Homo sapiens: one gene and its partners. The protein of the gene in region 1 purifies or fractionates together with the protein of each later gene. This does not show direct contact. Each region holds a gene or a part of one and is shown in the gene's direction. Other genes may lie near its edges.

Evidence for each region.
Region 2: the proteins of STAT5A (region 1) and PDK2 purify together in Homo sapiens (affinity purification with mass spectrometry; 2 studies listed by BioGRID and IntAct, with this or other methods). This does not show direct contact.
Region 3: the proteins of STAT5A (region 1) and ADD3 purify together in Homo sapiens (affinity purification with mass spectrometry; one large-scale study listed by BioGRID and IntAct). This does not show direct contact.

Annotation. Positions count from the first base shown.
Region 1 is NC_000017.11:42,301,936-42,305,662, forward strand, and holds part of STAT5A (signal transducer and activator of transcription 5A), read left to right. Parts: intron 1-2,406; coding exon 2,407-2,494; intron 2,495-2,594; coding exon 2,595-2,717; intron 2,718-3,674; coding exon 3,675-3,727. UniProt on the Homo sapiens protein: Carries out a dual function: signal transduction and activation of transcription. Mediates cellular responses to the cytokine KITLG/SCF and other growth factors. Mediates cellular responses to ERBB4.
Region 2 is NC_000017.11:50,105,351-50,108,850, forward strand, and holds part of PDK2 (pyruvate dehydrogenase kinase, isozyme 2 isoform 1 precursor), read left to right. Parts: intron 1-20; coding exon 21-92; intron 93-534; coding exon 535-719; coding exon of another isoform or gene 720-802; exon of another isoform or gene 803-1,021; intron 1,022-1,443; coding exon 1,444-1,533; intron 1,534-1,725; coding exon 1,726-1,803; intron 1,804-2,805; coding exon 2,806-2,882; intron 2,883-2,968; coding exon 2,969-3,067; intron 3,068-3,261; coding exon 3,262-3,369; intron 3,370-3,500. UniProt on the Homo sapiens protein: Kinase that plays a key role in the regulation of glucose and fatty acid metabolism and homeostasis via phosphorylation of the pyruvate dehydrogenase subunits PDHA1 and PDHA2.
Region 3 is NC_000010.11:110,129,871-110,133,138, forward strand, and holds part of ADD3 (gamma-adducin), read left to right. Parts: intron 1-492; coding exon 493-616; intron 617-2,434; coding exon 2,435-2,530; intron 2,531-3,268. UniProt on the Homo sapiens protein: Membrane-cytoskeleton-associated protein that promotes the assembly of the spectrin-actin network. Plays a role in actin filament capping. Binds to calmodulin.

The DNA of each region.
Region 1 (3,727 bases):
CGGTCGGAGGATCACTTGAGCCCAAAAGTTTGAGTTGGACAATATAGGGAGACCCTCATCGCTACAAAAAGTTTTAAAATTAGCTGGGCATGGTGGTGCACGCACTTGTAGTCCCAGCTACTCGGGAAGCTGAGGTGGTAGGATCATTTGAGCCTAGGAATTTGATACTACAGTGAGGTATGATTGTGCCATGGCACTCTACCCTGGGCAACAGGGTGAGACCCTGTCTCCAAAAAAATCACACAAAGTATGGTGTTGTAGCTGTGTTCTAGAACCTGTGCTACGCACTGAGGACAAAACTGTGATCCCAACAGAACTGGGCTGTCTTCTCGCCCAGCCCCTTGAGCAGCAGAGCAGGCAGCAGATGCTGGGAAATGCCTGATGGTGTAGCCATGTGGCAGGGGGATGTGTAGGGCACCGAGAAAGGGGGTCTTCTTGCAGGATTAAAGAAATGACAGTCTTAGGCTCCTGGTGGAATTGGAGGTAGCTAGTGATAGGGAGGGAAGTAGCAGAGAGGGAGGACTTTCAGGCAGAGCCCATGTGCCACATCCTGAGGGAAGAGTACAGAGACATTATGTGTAGCAGAGAGTGGAGAAGTAGTGTCCAGTGTCAGGGCAGGCCACCCACAGCGTATGCAGGGGATGAATAAATGAGTGAATGAGTGATGTGGAAGACATGGCCCCATCCCTTGTCATCCAATTAAAAATGTTTACTGAGGCTGGGCGAGGTGGCTCACGCCTGTAATCCCAGCACTTTGGGAGGTAGAGGCAGGCAGATCACTTGAGGCCAGGAGTTCGAGACCAGCCTGGCCACCATGGTGAAACCCTGTCTCTACTAAAAATACAAAAATTAGCCAGGCTTGGTAACGTACACCTGTAGCTCCAGCTACTTGGACCTCTAGTCCTAACTACCAACTACTCTGAGGCAAGAAAATCACTTGAACCCGGAGGTGGACGTGGCAGTGAGCCAAGATTGTGCCACTGCACTCCAGCCTATGACAGAGCAAGACTCTGTTTAAAAAAAAAAAAAAGGCCAGGCACAGTGGCTCACGCCTGTAATTCCAGCACTTTGGGAGGCCCAAGCGGGCGGATCATGAGGTCAGGAGTTCGAGACCAGCCTGGCCAACATGGTGAAACCCCGTCTCTACTAAAAATACAAAAATTAGCTGGGCATGGTGGTGGAAGCCTGTAATCCCAGCTACTCAGGAGGCTGAGGCAGGAGAATTCCTCAAACCCAGGAGGTGGAGGTTGCAGTGAGCCGAGACTGTGCCATTGCACTCCAGCCTGGGCAACAAAAGCAAGACTCTGTTTCAAAAAAAAAAGTTTACTGATTTCCTACCATGTGATCTGGGGTGAAGATGAAGACAAATGACCTTCTCACTGCCTTTGAGCTTGCATTGCAGCTGGGGAGACTGATGATAATACACTTTAAAAGATCAGGCAGGGCCAACCAGTGATAGACACTGGAAAAGAAGTTAAGACAGAGCAATCTAGGCTGGGCACAGTGGCTCACGCCTGTAATCCCAGCACTTTGAGAGGCTGAGGTGGAAGGATCGTTTGAGATCAGGAGTTCGAAACCAGCCTGAGTAACATGGCAAAATCCAATCTCTACTAAAAATACAAAAATTAGCCAGGTATGGTTGTGTGCGCCTGTAGTCCCAGCTACTTGGGAGGCTAAGGCAGTGGAATCACTTGAACCTGGGAGGTGGAGGTTGTGGTGAGCTGAGATTGCACCATCGCACTCCAGCCTGGGCAAAAAGAGCAAAGCTCTGTCTCAAAAAAAAAAAGAAAAAAGAGCAATCTGCTAGCGTTGGAGATGTGTTTAAGGCGGGGGTGAGGAAAGGTCAGCTTGGTAAGCTTCTCCAGATAAGTGGTCCAGGAAGGCCTTTCTGGGGAGCTATCTGGGCTGAGACCTGAAGGAGGAGAAGGCTAAGAGTGTTTGGGGTGACAGGAAGAGCAAGGGCCAATGTCCAAGCCTGGCATGTTCAGCAGACAGCCAGGGCCAACGGGGCTTGCATGTCCTGAGTGAGGGGAGAGGAATTCAGTGAGGCCAGGGGGGTGGGTAGGTGTTGACCATAGGGATCCTCAGAGACTGTGGTTGTGATTTTTATCTTAAGTGCATTAGAAGCTATTGGAAGTCCCCAAAGCCCTCACATCAATCTTGGTATCGAGGAATTTCTAATGATAGATCCAGACCTCACCACTGGAGACCTTGCCTTGGGTGCTGGGCACCAGGTTGATGGAGAAGTCAGTAACCCAGAAAGACGCCAAGAAACACTCTTAGGGGATACGGGGCAGGGGCTGCTGGCAGGGCTGACCTGAGCGAAGACCCCAGCCCGAGGTGTGGACAGGACCATGCTCCTGGCCTGGGGCCCATGTGGAGCTGGGACCCCCCTCTCCTTTGCAGCGAGTGCAGTGGTGAGATCCTGAACAACTGCTGCGTGATGGAGTACCACCAAGCCACGGGCACCCTCAGTGCCCACTTCAGGAACATGGTGAGGACGGGGCCCACCCTCGGAGGGCAGGTCTGCCCAGAGCTGAGTCCTTGTAAGCAGCCGCCATCTCCCTGTTCCCCTGTCACCTCCCACCCTGCAGTCACTGAAGAGGATCAAGCGTGCTGACCGGCGGGGTGCAGAGTCCGTGACAGAGGAGAAGTTCACAGTCCTGTTTGAGTCTCAGTTCAGTGTTGGCAGCAATGAGCTTGTGTTCCAGGTGAAGGTGAGACCCCCAGCCCTCCTGCCCCCACTGCTCCAGGTCACCCAAGAGGTGGAGGGGCCTGCCTCAGGACTCCTGGCAGCAATGCCATCGGACAGCCTGCTTTGACTCTGTGGGTCCCTGTTTGATAGGTTATAATCTGGGACTAACCCAGACAATTTAGGCAATGGGCTAAGAAGAAGTCGGTTGTAGTTTTTGTTTGTTTGCTTGTGCCTACATTTTGCTGGGAGGGGCTTGTGTTTGGAACTGTGGGTGAGGAAAGTGGGTTGGGACCAGGTGTGGTGGCTCTCACCTGTAATTCCAGCATTTTGGGAGGCAGAAGAGGGAGGACTGCTTGAGTCCAGGAGTTCAAGACTAGCCTGGGCAGCATAGTGAGAACCCGTATCTACAAAAAAAAGAAAAAAGTTGGGCATGGTGGCCTGCACCTGTAGTCCCAGCTATTCTGGAGGCTGAGGCAGGAGGATCACTTGAGCCCAGGAGGTCAAGGCTGCAGTGAGCTGTGATTGCACCACTGCCCTCCAGTCTGGGCGACCGAGCGAGACCCTGTCTCGAAGAAAATAAAGCAGATTGCGGCCATGGGTGGTGGGTCTTGCCTGTAATCCCAGCACTTTGGGAGGCCAAGGAGGGTGGATCACCTGAGGTCAGGGGTTCGAGATCAACCTGACCAACATGGAGAAACCCCGTCTCTACTAAAAATACAAAATTAGCCAGGTGTGGTGACACATGCCTGTAATCCCAGCTACTTGGGAAGCTGAGGCAGGAGAATCGCTTGAACCCGGGAGGCAGAGGTTGTGGTGAGCCGAGATTGCACCATTGCACTCCAGCCTGGGCAACAAGAGTGAAACTCCATATCAAAAAAAAAAATACATAAAAAAAAATAAAGCAGATTGGGCATGTTGCCTAAGCAGAGGGCACGTGGTGGTCACGCCCCATCAACTTGGGTTCCTTTGACTCCTGTAGACTCTGTCCCTACCTGTGGTTGTCATCGTCCACGGCAGCCAGGACCACAATGC
Region 2 (3,500 bases), 7.8 Mb from region 1:
CCCCTCCCGCCCCCACACAGGTATGTCCAGAGCCTCCTGGACATCATGGAGTTCCTGGACAAGGATCCCGAGGACCATCGCACCCTGAGCCAGTGAGTGGGGGCCCTGGGTGGGGCAGGAAGGCAGGTGTTGGCCAGGGGCATCTGGGGTTGCAGCCCCTGGGGCAGAAGTACAGCAGGATGGAAGAAAAGACCCCTGCCTTCAGAAACATCCAGTCTGAGTGGGGAGACAGACTCTGCTTCAGGGAGCCCCAAGTTTGATGGGAGAGACATGGACTCCATTCTCACTGTTCCCTGAGCCCGGTGGGCAAGACCCAGGCCCTGCCATGGGGAGGATGAGAACTCTGGGCTTTCGAGTGGGAAGCCTGCCGGCAGGCAGCTAAAAGATCAGAGTGGGCTTTGGGAGGAGCAGGGAGGGCACTGGGAGTCCATCGGATTGGGAAGGGTAGAGCGGGTGAAGACACCGTGGAGAGGGGAGTCAGAAGCGGAGAAGAGTCTGGGGGTGTCCCATGTGAACATCTGCCCTGCCCCACAGGTTCACTGACGCCCTGGTCACCATCCGGAACCGGCACAACGACGTGGTGCCCACCATGGCACAAGGCGTGCTTGAGTACAAGGACACCTACGGCGATGACCCCGTCTCCAACCAGAACATCCAGTACTTCCTGGACCGCTTCTACCTCAGCCGCATCTCCATCCGCATGCTCATCAACCAGCACAGTGGGTGCCGGCCACAGCGGCGGGGAGCGGGCGGTGGGGGGGGCGGTGCTGGGGCCCAGGGCCGGGCTGCTGAGGGGACCTAGACCACTCTTCAGAACCCCACAAAGGGAGTCTTTGAATAGTTACTCCAGTAACTATGGAGTTAATGGCTCCAACATGGAAAAATAAAATTTTTCTTTCTCATTGATTTTCCATTTCAAAACGTTTTGTTTTCAGTGTTTGCAAAATGTAAAATTATGTCACATCTTTAAAAGAATGTTTAATTTAGTATTTATAAAAACTCTCATTATGTTCAAAAACAATTTGTTGTTTAGAGTTTCTTATTCCAGGAGGATTCACTATGATTTTTGAGAAGTTGTAGCCAGTCATAAATTAAACAAGTTCCTCATGCTCAAATAATTTCCAAAGCAAGGTGGTAAGAGTTCTCTTAGAATGTTATAGTCAAAGAAAAGAATAAATGCAATGTGGAGATGTGATGTGGGGAGAGACCTCTGAAAAGACGTCTGTTTCAGGTTTGCAAAGGTTTAAAAACGGCCTAAGCCAGGGCTGGAGGGGTCAGGGGTCAGGGAAGGGAGGACAGAAGCGGGGGAGTGGGGCAGCTTTAGGACTGGAGCCTACAGAGGCATTGGAGGTGAAAGTAGAAAGAGGAGGAAAGCCCGGGGGAAGAGGGAGCGCTGGGACAGACTGCAGCCCAGCCAACAGCATCCTCCCTTCCTGCCTGCAGCCCTCATCTTTGATGGCAGCACCAACCCAGCCCATCCCAAACACATCGGCAGCATCGACCCCAACTGCAACGTCTCTGAGGTGGTCAAAGGTGAGCCATTCCCACGGTGCCTGGCCCGCAGAGAAGCCCCGGGGACCCCTCCAAGCTTACCTGGCCAGAGGGTGACTCGTTCCTCAGTAAGGGGTGCCATGGATTTAATGCTGGTGGTCCCCAGTATCAATGTCAGGAGGACTGCCTGCTGGGTGGGCCACCCATGCCCTGAATGACCCCATCTTCTCTCAGATGCCTACGACATGGCTAAGCTCCTGTGTGACAAGTATTACATGGCCTCACCTGACCTGGAGATCCAGGAGATCAATGGTGAGTGAGCGGGGCTGTGTATGTGTCTGTCTTGGGGCTGGGGACGTGGCAGGGCAAGGTGAGACGGGGAGTCAGGAGATGGACTGTTTTCTAGACAGGGGAGAAGCAGAGTTATTATATTATTAATTCATTTGATAAATATTTGGGCTGGGCACAGTGGCTCACACCTGTAATCTCAGCACTTTGGGAAGCTAAGGCAGGCCAATCACTTGAGGTCAGGAGTTTGAGACCGGCCTCGGCAACATGGTGAAACCCTGTCTCTACTAAAAATACAAAAATTAGCCGGGCATGATGGCACATGCTTATAATCCCAGCTACTTGGAAGGCTGAGACAGGAGAATCACTTGAACCCGGGAGGCTGAGACTGCCGTGAGCTGAGATGCTACCACTGCACTCCAGCCTGGGTGACAGAGCGAGACTTCATCTCAAACAAATAAGAAATTGAGTGAATGAATGAATGAAAGAGTAAGCAAGACAGAAATGGTCCCCATTCTCGTGGACCTTACATTTTTGGTGCTAGGGAGATTGCGGAATGGAGCCTTCAGCCAATTAACAAGTAAATAAACAAGACCATCTCAGATCATGACAAGTGATGGGAAGGAAATAAAATGGGGTAACTCAACAGGGGTAGGGAGGAGGGGCATGTTAGATGGTGTATCAGCTTGGCTGCTTTCCTAGAACCCCAATACCAGTGGCTTACTTAAGAGGGAGGTTTCCCTCTCGCCAGCCCCTTGCTGGACAGGTCAGGGCTGGCTCCCCACCCCTGATTCAGTTCTAGCCTGGAGGAAGGGAACAAGGGTGTGGAAAGCAGGGCCCAAGAATTGAATGCATCACTTCCATGAGTCACCAGCTACCCCAGCTCAAGGGAGGCTGGGGATTTAGTCTCTCGCTGGGCAGCCATGTACTCAGAACTTTGTGGGAGGGGGTGCCTCCTTTGGGTAAGGTGGTTGAGCAGTGACCTCCTGACGGTTTCCTGACCCTTGGTCTTGACTTGCCCTGTAGCAGCCAACTCCAAACAGCCGATTCACATGGTCTACGTCCCCTCCCACCTCTACCACATGCTCTTTGAGCTCTTCAAGGTGAGGAGGCTGGGAGCCGGTGCTTTGCGGGGAGCGTGAGTAGGGCTGGCTTCTCCCATGCATCTCTTACCTCTGCCCCTCCGCAGAATGCCATGAGGGCGACTGTGGAAAGCCATGAGTCCAGCCTCATTCTCCCACCCATCAAGGTCATGGTGGCCTTGGGTGAGGAAGATCTGTCCATCAAGGTATGTGACCCTTTGACCTTGGGGACCAGGGAGCAGTAGTGGGGGCTTCCCTCCTGCCAGGAGACGGGCTTTCCTTTTCTCCTACATGGTGGGCAGATCCTGGGGGTGGGGAAGACCATGAGAAGGTCAGGGGTATTGGGCGGGGTGGGGAAAATGAGCTGTAAAGAATCCCTGACACATCCCATCTCTCCCAGATGAGTGACCGAGGTGGGGGTGTTCCCTTGAGGAAGATTGAGCGACTCTTCAGCTACATGTACTCCACAGCACCCACCCCCCAGCCTGGCACCGGGGGAACGCCGCTGGTGAGATGGCTTCACCCCAGCCCCTCCCACCTCCTGAGGGAGGCTTCTCTCCTCACTCACTTCCTTATCTCCCTGCTCACTCAGCTTCTGTGTGGCCGTCTGTGACAGTCACCTGTCTTGAATCTGGGCCC
Region 3 (3,268 bases), on another chromosome or scaffold:
ATGAAAAATAAATACATGGGTTCCATATGCCAACTGCAACTGAAATTCTCATTATTTCCTTTCCTGGAGAAAACAGCTACAAGCTTATTTTCGTAACAGATTTAAAGAACTACTTTTGGTACAGTTTCATTTCTGTAAGCCTTTTTTACAGTGGTCTTTAAAATGGAGCAATTCTTGTTTTTTTCAAGTTTTTTTTATGTGAAACTTATTAGAACTTGGCATAATGGTTTTTAAAAATTATTAAGATTTACTTATACAGGCTTATTGAGGAAATATCACTGGCAATTTTAGTCCATTGGATTAGTAGTTTAAGGGCATCAATCTTACAAGAGCATTTTAAACAAAGCATGTTACCTTGCATTTCTTAGGATTGTTGTGAAATAAGGCTTCACAAACATCATATTTGCATTTATGTGTATATAGATGGATGGATGGATAGATATATAAGTAAAACTCTTGGTAATGAATCGATTTTTATTTTTTCTTTGTAAGACTATGCAATTTGAAGATGATGATCATGGCCCACCAGCTCCTCCTAACCCATTTAGTCATCTCACAGAAGGAGAACTTGAAGAGTATAAGAGGACAATCGAACGTAAACAACAAGGCCTAGAAGGTTAGTTAATCTTTACATTCAACCTAGGGTAAGCCACACTGATAACAATAAAGTACCTCACGTTGGATGATAGAAAGCAGTCAGTGTGGCCGGGCACAATGGCTCACACCTGTAATCCCAGCACTTTGGGAGACCAAGGCAGGTGGATTGCTTGAGGTCAGGAGTTTGAGACCAGCCTGGCCAACATGGTGAAACCCCGTCTCTATTAAAAATTAAAAAATTAGCCGGGCATGGTGGTACACGCCTGTAGTCCTAGCTACTCTGGTGGCTGAGGCAGGAGAATCGCTTGAACCTGGGAGGCAGAGGTTGCAGTGAGCTGAGATCGCACCACTGCACTGCAGCCTGGGCGACAGAGAGAGACTCCGTCTCAAAAAAAAAAAAACAGAAAAAGAAAAAAAACAATCTGAATGCTACTATTTTATAGTAAAATCTTCTAGAAAGTGAGATTCCCAGATGAGTAAAGAATTACTAGCCAAAGTAGATGTAGATAAATTAATGGATTTAAACATTTCATAATTATGTGGCTTTTTAACTCTCTTAATTTTAAATAATTACAGATTCATAAGTATGTAGTTTTGATGCTTTGTAAAATCTCTATTTCTGGTTATCTCAAGGTGCCAACATTGTCACTTCAAAATTTAAAACTAACTGCTAAAATTTTGATGTGACTTTCCTTAAGCACACGGACACTCTAGTAGGTTGAGTTTTCTGGCTTTGGAACCCTTAGTAAGTAGATTGTTAGGATTATATTTAAGACTTGTTAATGAAAACATCTTAAACAATTGACTACTAGCTCCCTTTTTCTCTGGAATAAGAGATTCTTCCTAGCAGGAGTTCTCTATCTTGAGTCTTTGGATAAGCTTCAGGCAGTCCATGAGCCACCTGAAAAATACATGCTTTATTGTTTAAGGTACACATTTAGGGAGGGAAGGGTTCAGGGTCAGGAACAAGCCTGTCACCCAAAAAGAGGGTAAGGAGCCTCTGCTTTAGAGCATCCACAACATACAGTTGAAATTTTCATGCAAAGCAAAATAAGCCAATAGTTAATGAATTTTTGTCCATGTTAGATATCATTTAGGAAGAACTAATGACATCTTGATCATCCAAGGAACAGTTTTTTGTGCCTTTGTCACAAAAGGGAGTTGTCCTGATTCATTAATGTAATTATACTAAATTTTCTAAATGGTGTTATTGAATTTGTTTATTCTAACATAAAGTTGGGAGCTTTCTCTGTTTTTCATATTTTGTAAAATATCCCTCTTTAATCTCTTGTTTTTTGAAAGCCTAAAGATGCCAGGTAACAAATGTTGCACTCTAGAACCGTCACCTTTTTTATATAACTTTATAGTAGTTTCTTCCACATTTATTATGACCTTATGAATTAGCTCAGTAACATTGCTCTGACAGGTATCACTAATTAAATATTGTTCAAAAATTCTGTGAAGCATTCTGCCTCATTAATGTAGCATCATTGGTGAGGCTTTATAATTTTTTTCATCTGTCTGCGCAGTATGTTTTGGTTTTCTAATGCTAGCAAGAGCTACATGCAACATATCATTTGCCTGGGCTGCCAGCAGCTGTGCATCTTTTGTAACCTGTACGTAAAATAACCATTAGCAGCCAGAAATGTTAACACATTAACCTCCTCTTAATGTATAATTATGGATATATGGGATAACTGTTAGCATGCTCAGCTCACTGCTGAAGAATTTATCATCTCTTTGTATACAGGCATTTGATGTATGCACTAACCTCCCTAAAATCATATGCTGCTTTGTTTTGTTTTGCATGGCTTTTAACTAAACTCTTATCCAACAGATGCTGAGCAGGAATTACTCTCAGATGACGCTTCATCTGTTTCACAAATTCAGTCTCAAACTCAGTCACCGCAAAATGTCCCTGAAAAATTAGAAGGTACTCAATGTAATTTCCCACATAGCATTCACTGAGTTAGTCTTGAGTCTGTCCCTCTGTGTTTTGTTTTCACGTGAGGAAGTTGAATACCTCATCACAGTAAGTTTTCCATATTTTACTTATATCTCCCAATAATTACATATTTTATATCATTAAAAATGGGGCGCTACTTTTGTTCAGCATTTATATTGATTTACCTTAATCTGAATTTTGGCAACCCGCAGTTCTTAAGAATTTGTGGAATTGGCTGGGCGCGGTGGCTCACACCTGTAATCCCAGCACTTTGGGAGGCTGAGGCAGGTGGATCACGAGGTCAGGAGATCAAGACCATCCTGGCTAACACGGTGAAACCCTGTCTCTACTAAAAATACAAAAAATTAGCTGGGTGTGGTGGCGGGCGCCTGTAGTCCCAGCTACTCGGGAGGCTGAGGCAGGAGAATGGCATGAACACGGGAGGTGGAGCTGGCAGTGAGCCAAGACTGCCACTGCACTCCGGCCTGGGCGACAGAGTGAGACTCCGCCTCAAAAAAAAAAAAAAAAAAAAAAGAATTTGTGGAATTAAACATCTCCCAATCAGCAGCATGAAATCTTTTTCAGTATTGATTGCCAAATGATCCCAAAACTAGAGAAAAATATGTTGTCTTCCTCATTTATACTTAATTGATTTACAATGAAACTGTTATTTCATCAAACTGGGATTATCTAGCTTTTGCTCTTTGGTTTAACAACTTTGTTCCT